2 separate regions of the Homo sapiens genome follow, and region 2 is linked to region 1. Evidence: fine-mapped expression QTL. A gene starts in region 1. The other region holds a variant in brackets. All regions are shown on one strand. Distances are from middle to middle.

What was found.
Region 2: its variant is fine-mapped to the expression of ZNF470-DT in whole blood (TOPMed, PIP above 0.99). The same link has a PIP of 0.9 or more in caudate.

What each region holds. Positions count from the first base shown.
Region 1 is chr19:56,565,023-56,570,392 of GRCh38, reverse strand. ZNF470-DT (ZNF470 divergent transcript) reads left to right here and starts at 2,372. Exons shown (of 2, transcript XM_047439806.1): 1 at 2,372-3,320. The coding sequence starts at 2,372. The coding sequence ends at 3,310. ZNF470 (zinc finger protein 470) reads right to left here and starts at 2,925. Exons shown (of 6, transcript NM_001001668.4): 1 at 2,355-2,925; 2 at 1,510-1,635; 3 at 22-113. The coding sequence starts at 81. RefSeq lists enhancers at 2,486-2,595, 2,976-3,185, 3,196-3,245.
Region 2 is chr19:56,537,160-56,542,529 of GRCh38, reverse strand. It overlaps ZFP28 (ZFP28 zinc finger protein), which reads right to left and starts at 3,582. Exons shown (of 8, transcript NM_020828.2): 1 at 3,304-3,582; 2 at 2,814-2,905. The coding sequence starts at 3,511. ZFP28-DT (ZFP28 divergent transcript) reads left to right here and starts at 3,796. Exons shown (of 3, transcript NR_183967.1): 1 at 3,796-4,105; 2 at 4,793-4,879. The variant A/G (reference allele first, on the strand shown) is at 2,505.

The sequences.
Region 1 (5,370 bases):
AGAGGGGGAATACTAACTCACCAGGGACATGGCTTTACAAAGTTTAATTCCTGCCACCTCTACCTCTTCCTGGCTCTTCATTTGGAGAAGAGCTTTACTCTGGGATTGTAGAGCTGGGGAGAAAAAGAAGTAGTGAGAAACCAAGTAGCACTAATAATCAAAGTCTGAAAATGCTTTCTTCCCTTCAGCTTCTTCTGTCCTCACTCACAGTCCTCACTCCAACTCCCCCACCCCACAGTCCTGATGCTCTTTGGGAGACTTGAAATATATAGCTGGGGTTCCCCTCTGCTCTGGGTTTTCAGGATGAGCATAATATCTCTTGACCCCCTCTCCCCATCAGCCACCAATTCATTAACAACAGATTTATTAATACTAGCCTGTGTGTGTGTACATTTTTTTTTTCTAAGACAGGGACTCACTCTGTTGCCCAGGTTGGAGTACAGTGACGTGATCATAGCTCACTGTATCTTCAAACTCTGGGCTCAAGGGATCCTCCTGCTTAGGCCTCCTAAGTAGCTAAGATTACAGGCATGTGCCACCATGCCCAGCTAGTTTTTTTACTTTTGATAGAGATGGGGGTCTCACTATATTGCCCAATTGCTCACTATATTGCTTGAGGCCAGGAGGTGTCAACCTCCTGGAGTTAGGTATCTGGTCAACCTCCTGGCCTCAAGCAATCCTCCTGCCTTGGCTTCCCACAGTGCTGGGATTACAAGCATGAGCCACCATGTCTGTGCTGCATATATTAATACTGTCTTTAAATCTCCAAAATCTTCAAACAGAATCGGGTATATTGTCACCATTTTACACAAGAAAGCTCTGGGAAGTCAAGTCTTTTCCACAAGTCACACAAATTTGTAAATAACCTAGTCACCAACCTAGGTCTGGCTGACTCTATCACAGAAGTTATTTGCTCATATACCAGAAAATAACAGAAAATAAGTCCTCTGTGCAGTTGGCCAGGATTTGTGAACATTCTATAAGACAAATTCCATGGAGAATTCCATCTTTTCCAGAGAGAGGCATTCCTTTCGTTACAACAGAGTCCATGTGACTTGCAGACAACCAAATGAAAAAATCCTCATGAGGCCTAGGATCTCATTTTGTTTTGTGACAAACTACAGTGTTGAAGCAGTCCCTTGACTCCACTGAGCCATGTTTCCTTAATTAGGAAGGAAGAGGATAAAGTATCTGAATTAATTCTAGTTTCTTTCATCTAAATTCCACTGCCTTCTCAAAGGATTATCATAATGATGATAAAAATGAACACATTACATGGCAGGGACTATACCAAGTGCTTTACATGTATGAGGTCATTTAATCCTTATGACAGTACTGTGAGGTATATAATATTACCATCTCCATTTTACCTAAGAACTTAGAGTCATAAACTTTTTAAGAAAAAAACCCCAAACCTGCTCAGTGGAGGTTCTGGCATATGAACTATTTAGTTATTTAACCCTTTCAGAGTCAGTTTCTTTAATTGTCAAAAGTGGCTAAGAAACCTACCTGAGGCAGTAGTTGAGGAAACTACATGACAGCCAGTGACTCTGGAGTCAGCCTGTTCTGGATCTGAATCCCGGTTCTTCCACTTGCTAGTGATTACTTATCCTCTCTATGCTTCTGTGTCTTCATCTGTAAAAAAGAGGTAAGTAGTTCCTACTTCATAATGTTGTGAAGTTTGGTGCTGATACTCCCAAAAGGTCTTAGAACTGTGTCTGGCACATAATAAACACTCATTAAACATTAGCTATTACTATAGCATGCAGGAAACTAAACAAGCACAGAACAATATGGCTAAAAATAGCCCTTCCTCCCCCTTTCTCTTTATTGGAGTGGGAGGCCAGAGGGGAGGGAGAGAAGCCCAAGGAATGGGGATATCTTCCGTTATTGACTAGAACGTGATTAAGCCATAGAAAGGCTGGAATGCCTCGGCATTTCTGGGTGAAGCTGTGAATCTCGCCTTCTTCCCAAATCCTACAGTGATAGATGGGACAAGGCTCTGACGGGTAAAAATCTAAATGCTGAGCTATTCCTTCAACAGCAGCAGAGTACCCAGAAGTAATGCTATAATGGGTAATATTACGGGTAGTGTTCTCTCCCATGGGCCCTTAGTGATATACCAAGGACCTGAGTCAGGTTATCTGGTTAGGTGTCTCTGGCCAAGTCAAGGTCCCTCCCTAACTAAACCCAGCTCCACTCTGACCCAAGGTGACCCTCCAAATCTTTCGACTTCCAGGTCCACTAGCCTTAGAAACGGGGGACATCCTCCTCCAGCACCTGAACCCCGAAAGACAGCACCCAAAACCTCAATGTCCACTCCGGCAGCCACATCCGTCATCTGTCACTCTTACCTGTGTACTCAGTCCCCATGGTCTTCGCTCCTCGCCGTCCTGTGGACATGGAGCCCTGTCCTGGGCTCTGCCCCTTCCAGATAGGGCTGACAGGAAATGCTTCAGCCGAGGCTGCCCCGCCCGGGCAACTTCCCCGGGCTCTAGGACTTTGCCCACACTGGGCTCTACGCAGTCGATACAGGGGAGAACGGGGTAAGCCTCCTCCGGCCGGGTTTCCTGCTCTTGGCCACTTAAAGTGCTTCACTCATTCCAACACACACCGCCTTCCGCACGCCGCCGGGCCATGCACGCAGGCGCAGATTCGCGGCCACGCACCGGACAGTCACACACCGGGCCGCCATCCCCGCGCGCGCTCGCCCCTCCTCAGCACAGCACCGCACGCTCACCACGTATGGGCACTCACAGCCACCAGGCCACACGCGCACGCTCACGCCCGCCGCCCACACAGGAACCAGGACACCGCCCCCGCCGCGCCCCAGTCCAGCCTCGGCCGCTGCCCCGCCCAGACCTCCCTTCTCCTCAGCAACCGGCGGGACGTGCACTCGCCCGGCTTTGGGTCCTTTCCGGAAGTGGGCGTGTCCTCCGCTGCAATAGCCCCTGGGAAGTGTAGTCCGGAACGGAGGCGGCGTTCAGAAATAGGGCGCTGGCTTTGCCAGGAGCGGCTCCTCTCCAAGCCTGGCGGTCACTGCCCTGTGTCCCCTTTTGGGCCTCTCCTGGTCCTCCTGGTTGGATTAGGAGGCCTCTCAGCCCGGAGTCTGGGTCGCCGAAGTACAGGCCCCTTCACTGAAGCGACCCACGGCGCAGGGGTTTCTGGAAGCCATCGCCAGGCTCCGAGTGTTCAGATGCAGCTGCCAGGCTCAGGACGCAGAGAACTGGCTTCCAGCTCGCAGGAGCGCCTGTCCGTGGTGGGTAGGGTCGCAGGCGTGGGGTGTGCAGGAGCAGTGGGACAGCACTGAAACGCAGTCGGTAAGGCGTAGCGGCTACCCTCTGGAGAGGAAAACCATGACAGGGCGGGGCTTGGGGCGCGGGCGGGGCCTACGCGATAGAAAAGTGAGGAGATTGGGATTTGTCTGCTTTGCACACTTGTGACTTTCTGATGGTGCGCGTGTGGAACCTGTTTTATTTCATGCCTACTAGTTACTGCTCTCTGATATACGGTACGCCCCTCACCTCCCCCCACCCCATTTTATCTCTCCCTGCTGGAAGGAGGGTTCCAAGAAGGCACACAGCTTCCGTCCTGTTCAGGGTTATATTCTCAGTGACTAAAACAGCACATAGTAGGTGCTTAGTTTTTTATTTTTATTTTATTTTTTAGGAAATCACGAAATCTAGCATTGCCAGTCTCACCATGACACAACATGTTATAGGCTGAATATGTCCTCCCAAAATTACTATGGTGAAACCCTAACCCCTAGTGTGATGACGTTAGGAGGTGGGACTTTGGGGAGGTAACTGGTTTTAGATTAGGTCATAAGGGTGATACCCTTATGATGGGGTCAGTGCACTTATTAAAAAAGAGGAAGGAGGGGTCTCCATGTTTACACAACCACCAAGCAAAGGCCATGTGAGGACACAGCAGGATGTAACCCATTTGCAAGCCAACGGGGCCCTCACCAAGAACTGAATGTGCCAGCACTTTAACTTCCCAGCCTCCAGAATTGTGAAAAATAAAGTCTCTTAGTCAAGTCACTTAGTCTATGATATTTTGTTATAGCAGCCCCAGCTGACCAAGATACAGCATCATAGATACTGGCTCACCAGAAACTAACTCACCCTCCCAGTCACACTCAATCACCCAAGGCCACACAGTGACATCTAGACTGGACTCTCCTGGATCCAATTTATGTCAGACATCATAAACAACATAATAAAGCCAAGTCTAGCTGTGAAGATACTTTAACTATGAAACAGCAAATATCATCTTAGAGCTTGTAACGTTTGTGGTTATTTGAGTTGGATGAAAATGATAATATTCTCATTTTAGCTCTGGCATATAAAGAGCTCGGAAGCCTTCATTCCCATCTTCACAACAACAAAATCATTCAACAAACTGAAAATCAACTTTTCTTAGATCCATCAGAGAACTGAAGATAGAAAGGTAACTGACACCCCAAAATCCCGAGAAAGAAAAATACATAAAATTACAGCCAAGATTAGCTTACTTGAAGCAGAAGCCACTGGAGTTATAAACTGGTAAAAACTTTTATTTTTTATAATTTTGATGAATTGCTGGAGGCTTAGTGTGGGCTAACTTGTGAGTTAAAAACTCCTAGGGGCCCAATCTTAGATGGGCCCCCACACTTTCGTGAATTTTACCTCCAGAAACCCTATCAAATTCTCTCAGTGAAGAATGGGGAAAAATCTCAGGTTTTTGGGCAAGGGGAGGAGAAAAGTAAGCACCACATTTTCCATAATAAACACCTGCACTCCAAGAAAAACTACTTACTAGAGTCTTGTTGGACCTTGGGGAGAGGCAATTGGCCAGCTCCAGTCCCTCTATAGCCTGTCTGTCTCAGTAAGGCAGGATTTTTGAAAGGCTAAGAAGTGCTTCTGAAGATCACAGTCCAAGGCCTCAAGCCCACTAGAAAAATAGTATTTAATAATAAGATTATAGAATGCTTCCCTCCCCACTGTACCTCACTGCCACACTAATGGGGCTCTGGTCAATAACAGTAGATTACAACAGAGAAAACTGCAAGGCACAGACTCTATTTAAGAAGGAGTTCTTAGGGAAGCCCACAGAAGGAGAAGCATCTTGGAAAAAGTAGACAACATGCAAGAACAGATGGGTAATGTAAGCAGAGAGATGCAAACTGTAAGAAGGAATCAAAAGGAAATCCTAGCAATTGAAAACCATTGTAACAGACATGAAGATTACCTTTAGTGAGCCCCTCAGACTAAGACACTCTGAGAAATGAATGGGTGAGCTTGAAGATATGTTAATAGAAATTTCCCAAACTGAAATACAAAGAGGAAAAAAAAAGAATGAAAAAAGAAAAAGAACAGAATATCCAAG
Region 2 (5,370 bases), 28 kb after region 1:
CAACATGGATCTGGGCTGCAAGGGTCCACCTATATGCAAATTTTTTCAACCAAATGCAGACTGAAAATACAATTATTGTCTGGGCGCGGGGAATCACACCTCTAATCGCAGCAATTTGGTAGCCCAAGGCGGGCGGTTGCCTGAGGCCAGGAGTTCGAGACCAGCCTGGGAAACATGGCAAAACCCCATCTCTACAAAAAATACAAAAATTAGCTGGGCATGGTGGCACATGCCTGTAATTCCAGCTACTTCGGAGGCTGAGATGGGAGCACTGCTTGAGCCTGGGGAGGTCAAGGCTGCAGTGAGCCGTGATGGCACCACTGCACTCCAGCCTGGGTGACAGAGTGAGACCTTGTCTCAAAAAAGATTATTTGTGGTATGGAAAACCTGTGTCCACTGAGGGCTGACTTCTCATATCTGCAGGCTCCACATGGCTGATGAATAAGTGCAAATTTTGGTATACGTGGGATTTCTGTATATAGTATGTTGAAAAGTACTACGAGGGCCAGGCACAGTGGCTCATGGCTGTAATCCCAGCACTTTGGGAGGCTGAGGTGGGCGGATCACTTGAGGTCAGGAAATCGAGACCAGCCTGGCCAACATGGTGAAACCCTGTCTCTAAAAAAAAAAAAAAAAAAAAAAAAAAAAAAAATTAGCCAGGTGTGGTGGCTACTCGGGAGGCTGAGGAAGGAGAATCATTTCAACTCAGGAGGCGGAGGTTGCAGTGAGCCGAGATCACGCCACTGTACTCCAGCCTGAGTGACAGAGCAAAACTCTGTCTCAAAAGAAAAGTACTAAAAGAAAAAAGCAAAGCAGGGAAGAGGGATGTGAAGAACAGGTAGGAGGCTCTGAAATTCTAGACAGGGTGAGCAGGAAAATGAGAAGGCGATTTTTCAGAAAGAAGAGAGTGATGTAGATGTCAGGGGTAACAAGGAGCCAGGTCATGTAGGGCCTGGTCAGTAACAGGAAGAGTTTTGGCTTTTATTCAGAGAAACCACTGGAGGGTCCTGAGCACAGCGTGACACAAGGTGACATGTTTGAATAGACCCCTCTGGCTGCTCATCGGGAAGGGGCTGTGGGGAGCGTGAGCAGAAGCAGGAGGTCACAGAAGCACAGTCAAGAAGCCCACAGTAAAAGGAGGACTTGGACCTGCTGCTGGTGATAGATGTGATGAAAACTGCCAGATTCTGCACATAATTTGCAAATAGAACTGACAGGATTTGCATCAGGACCAAATATGGAAGGAAAAGGCAAGAAATGAGCCAATCATGACAAGGCTTCCGGACTGAGTAACTGAGAGGATGAAACGGCCACTGACTAAGACTCAAACTGTGGGAGGAGCTGGTTTATGGGAGACTCTCAGGACTTCGGGTCTGGACAGGCTGTCTTGAGTTACCCATCAGACACTCAGGCAGAGGAGTGGAGCAGGATACACAGGCCGGCGGCTCAGAGGAGAGGTTTGGGCTCACAATGTGAATCTGGGAGGAGCCACCATGTGGGTAGGTTGTACAGACAAGGAACAGGCTACTATCCCCAGGAGACAGCATGCAGACAAAAAAAGAAAGGGCCATGAGCAGAGTGCTGAGGCACACTCTGTTCAAGTCACGGAGGTAAGAACTGTGGCAAAAACTGAGCAGTCAGGAAGATGAAAGTCAGATGAGTGTGAGATCCCAGTAGCCAAGGGAAAAAAGGGGGCCTATTGAAGGACAGGGATGAGCTATTTGAGGGATAGGTAGCCACCTGTTTTGTAACTGAAGTTTTACTGGAACACAGCCCATCCATTCATTTACATATTGTCTTTGGCTACTTTAGCTCTATAAGAGCAGAAAGGAGTAGATGCAGCAGGACTTTCAAAGCCTAACATATTTTCTGCTGTGGCCTCATCCAGCACAAGTTTGCCAGCCTCTGAGCTATTTCAAATACCAATGATAGTCAAAAAAGACTAAGAATTGAGCACTGCATCTGGTAATGTGAAGATCACAGTAACCCACTCAAGAGCAGTTTGGGTAGGACAACTGGAAGCTGGTTCATCTGTACATATATTTTTTGAGGCCTCAGTGGAAGTGAAATGGTTCATCTATTAATGAGCTAGCTATGATATTTATAGGAGAAGCCAACCGAAACAAACACAACTATTTACTGGCATGTTTTAAAGCCACAAAATCAAGTGGAAAAGCCTTTCATATTGCGCCTCCTCTCCCTAAAATGTTGTCTTTCTTTACTGTGCCTCCCAAACATCTTCTCTCCCTTCAAGGCAAGGCTCAAAAATCACCTCCTTGGTAAATAGGCCTACCCTTCCGCTACAGGAGGCTGGAAGCCAGGAGCGCCTTGTAGTCCTCGCTCATAATACTTGGCCCAAGGATGATCACATTCTAGAATCTTGCTTGTTTCCTTGACATTGGGTCAACAGGCTGTGAGCTCCAGAGCAGGGACTAGGGCTTAGCTATTGGTTTGCTCAGTGGCTGGCACAAAGTGGTCACCAAACAAACCATGTATAGCAGAAG[A/G]GTCTGCCGTGTTCCTCAAGGGGCACAATTCCTCCATCAGAGTCCCTCTGAGAAAAGCGGTACAAGGGAGAGGCTGAATCATTTCATCAATCAAGAATGAAGGCTGATTGGGATGAAGAAGAAGCAGGCATCGAGGCCCCGGGCAGTTTAAACTTTTCCCCGTAGCCCATCACTTCACTAGAACGTGAAGAAATAGAAACCCGCGCCCAAACAGGTCTCTTAAACTGAAAACTTTCAAGAAAATAAGCAACATTAAGTCCCGAAAAGCAAGACTGCATTTCAGAGACAAGAGATGAAATGCCAACTCACCTGGGACATGGCTTTAGGTTCAATTCCTGTCCCCACAGCCTCCAGCTTCTTGTTTCTCTCCTGGGGAAGAGCAGTGTCCCTGGAAGGCAGAGCTGAAAGAGAAAGGAGTAGCTAGAGACCAGGTCTACACCACAGTCCCAAATCACCAGCCTAGAAACGTCCCTTCCTGCATGAAAAGGTGGGATCAGATCATTACCCTGCCTAGGGACTGCCACAACGTGGAGATAGGTTTTTTTCCTCCCTGGGAGCACGAAAACAGGAAAAGCGTCTAGTTAGAGTCACCCTGGGAAAGTCAACACCCTTTTACCGCGGCTTGCTGCTCTGAATCAGTTGAGCTTCCAAATCTTCAGATTCTCCCACTCCACCAGCTTCAAAGACCAGGGGCACAGTTCTCCAGCAACTGGTCCCCGAGAGCCCAACCCCCTCCCAGATCTCATCCCGAGATGAATTCGTCCCTGTCCGCTCGGCCCCAAACACCTGTCACTCTCACCTCTGTGCCCAGGCCCCGTAGGGGCCGCTCCTCGCTGGCCTTTGGATGCGAGGCCATTCCTTGAGCGCGGCCTTCCCCGGGCAGGGAGGGCCAAGGTGGCTGGAGTCCCTACAGTCGGGCCTCGGCCCGCCCGGGGCTTTGTGCGGGGGGCGCCTCTACCCGGGAGCGGCGTCGGCTCGCGGACACTCGCGCTCGCCGCCCCCCGCATGTCACCCGAGGCCGCGCGACGCCCTTCCGACCGGTCCCTCACAGACCCACACCCCTGGCCACACCCGCCCGCCACGCCCAGCGAACAGCCCCGCGCGCGCTCCCCCATGGCCCGGCATCCACTGGGCCGCGCCGCGGAGCCGCCCCGCCCCCGGCCGCGCCCCGCCCCTCCCCACCCCTCCCCGCTGCCCCGCCCCGCCCCGCCCCGCCCCGCCCCGCCCCGCCCCGCCCCGCCCCGCCCCGCCCCGCCCCTCAGCCTAGAGAAGCCCGGCGCTTCCCACTTCCAGTGCGCAGGCAGCGCCGCCGGAACCGGGCGTGGCCTCGGCGCAATGCCCGCTGGGAAGCGTAGTCCCAAGCAGGGACGGATGCGGCGGCCCTCGGAGCTCAGGTTGCAAGATACGGTTTGGCCCCGGGCCTATGCAACGCCCGTCCGTCCTGCCCTCTGCGGGTCGCTCTCACTTGTCCCTGGACCGCAGCCGCCGCATAAGTGGTGGCCAACGCTGGGCCTGGGTGTGGCCGGAAGCAGAGGCCGCTCTGACTACACACCCACCCCCCAAAGGCTTCTGGGAGTCGCGCAGGCGCAGCGGCAGACCGGGTGAGGCGGGGCTTGCGGCGAGGGGTGGGACCGCAGGGCCGGAGTAAAAGGGTGCTTGGCTGTGACAGGTGCTAAGGGCCTGGGCGTCAGCTCCTTGCGGGAGCGTCACTGCCGACCGGGAAGGGAAAGGCAATCTTGGGGGCCTCCGGAGTCCGGAGGATCACTCTGATGGGTGATGTGTGTGGGCTAGGAAGGGGGATGTAGAGAGCTTGTGGGATTGTTTTGGGTGCCCCCTCACCTTCTCCCATTATCTCTGGCTACACGGGCCTCCCATCCTCCAAAATACCATTTTCCATTTTGTAACCTATGTATTTGCACGTCCTGGGTCGAAATAGTCTAACCCCAAATTTTCGTCTGGGCTGGCTCCTTTATGCCATTCACTTGTCATCGCCTCAGAGAGGGCTGCCTAACGTCTCAAAAATACCAGCCCTGGCGACCTCTTAAAGTTCCCTTCCTGTGTGAATCACGGTCTGAAGTTAGCTGATGGATTTATTCTTGAACATGTTTAGGACCGGTCTCTCCCCCAGGGGCCTTATCAGAACTGGAGAGCTTCATCCTGGGAGCCAAGGGCCTTGCTGGCTCACAGGCAGTGATGCTGTTACACCAGTCATCACAGATGCACTGACCTCTGCACGCCCAGTCACACTGCACGCCTGGTCTCCTTACTCTTGAATTGATTTCTTTCAGGTCTCCTGGCCTCAGTGATGGAATTAAGATGACTTCTATCTCTGAATCCAAGGGTGACTGAAAGCCGCAAGCTGCAGAAAGGACAAGGTCAGCATTTCTCTCAAAGCACTTCAGTCTCATAGAAAAGGCTTAGTTTCAGTCAGGTGGACCTAGCCATGTAATAGCTGTGGCAGACACTGCTAATGGTCTCTCTGGTGTCTATTTTGCACTCCTTCCACAGCAGAACATTGATGCTCTTCAAGTGGCCATCTGCCCAGCTTATAATACTCACCTCCCCAGTCTCCTTGTAAGGAGTAGTGGCTCTGTAACCAATGAATTTTAAGTACACATTTGCTGGGGGTTTGGTGGATGTGTGGAAAGAGACACAGCTGGCATGTAACTCTGGCCTTTTGTCATCTCACACAACCTTCTTCCTGCTTGGGTATGACACAGGATGTCAACAGGTAGAACAGCTGTAGAGAGCTGGCAAAGGGATCGTGGCCAACTCAACATTCCACTGGAGGCTATATGATCAAACAGCAAACTGTTTATCATGAATGCAGAATGTGGGCAAAGTCGCTTCTGCTCCAGCCACCAGA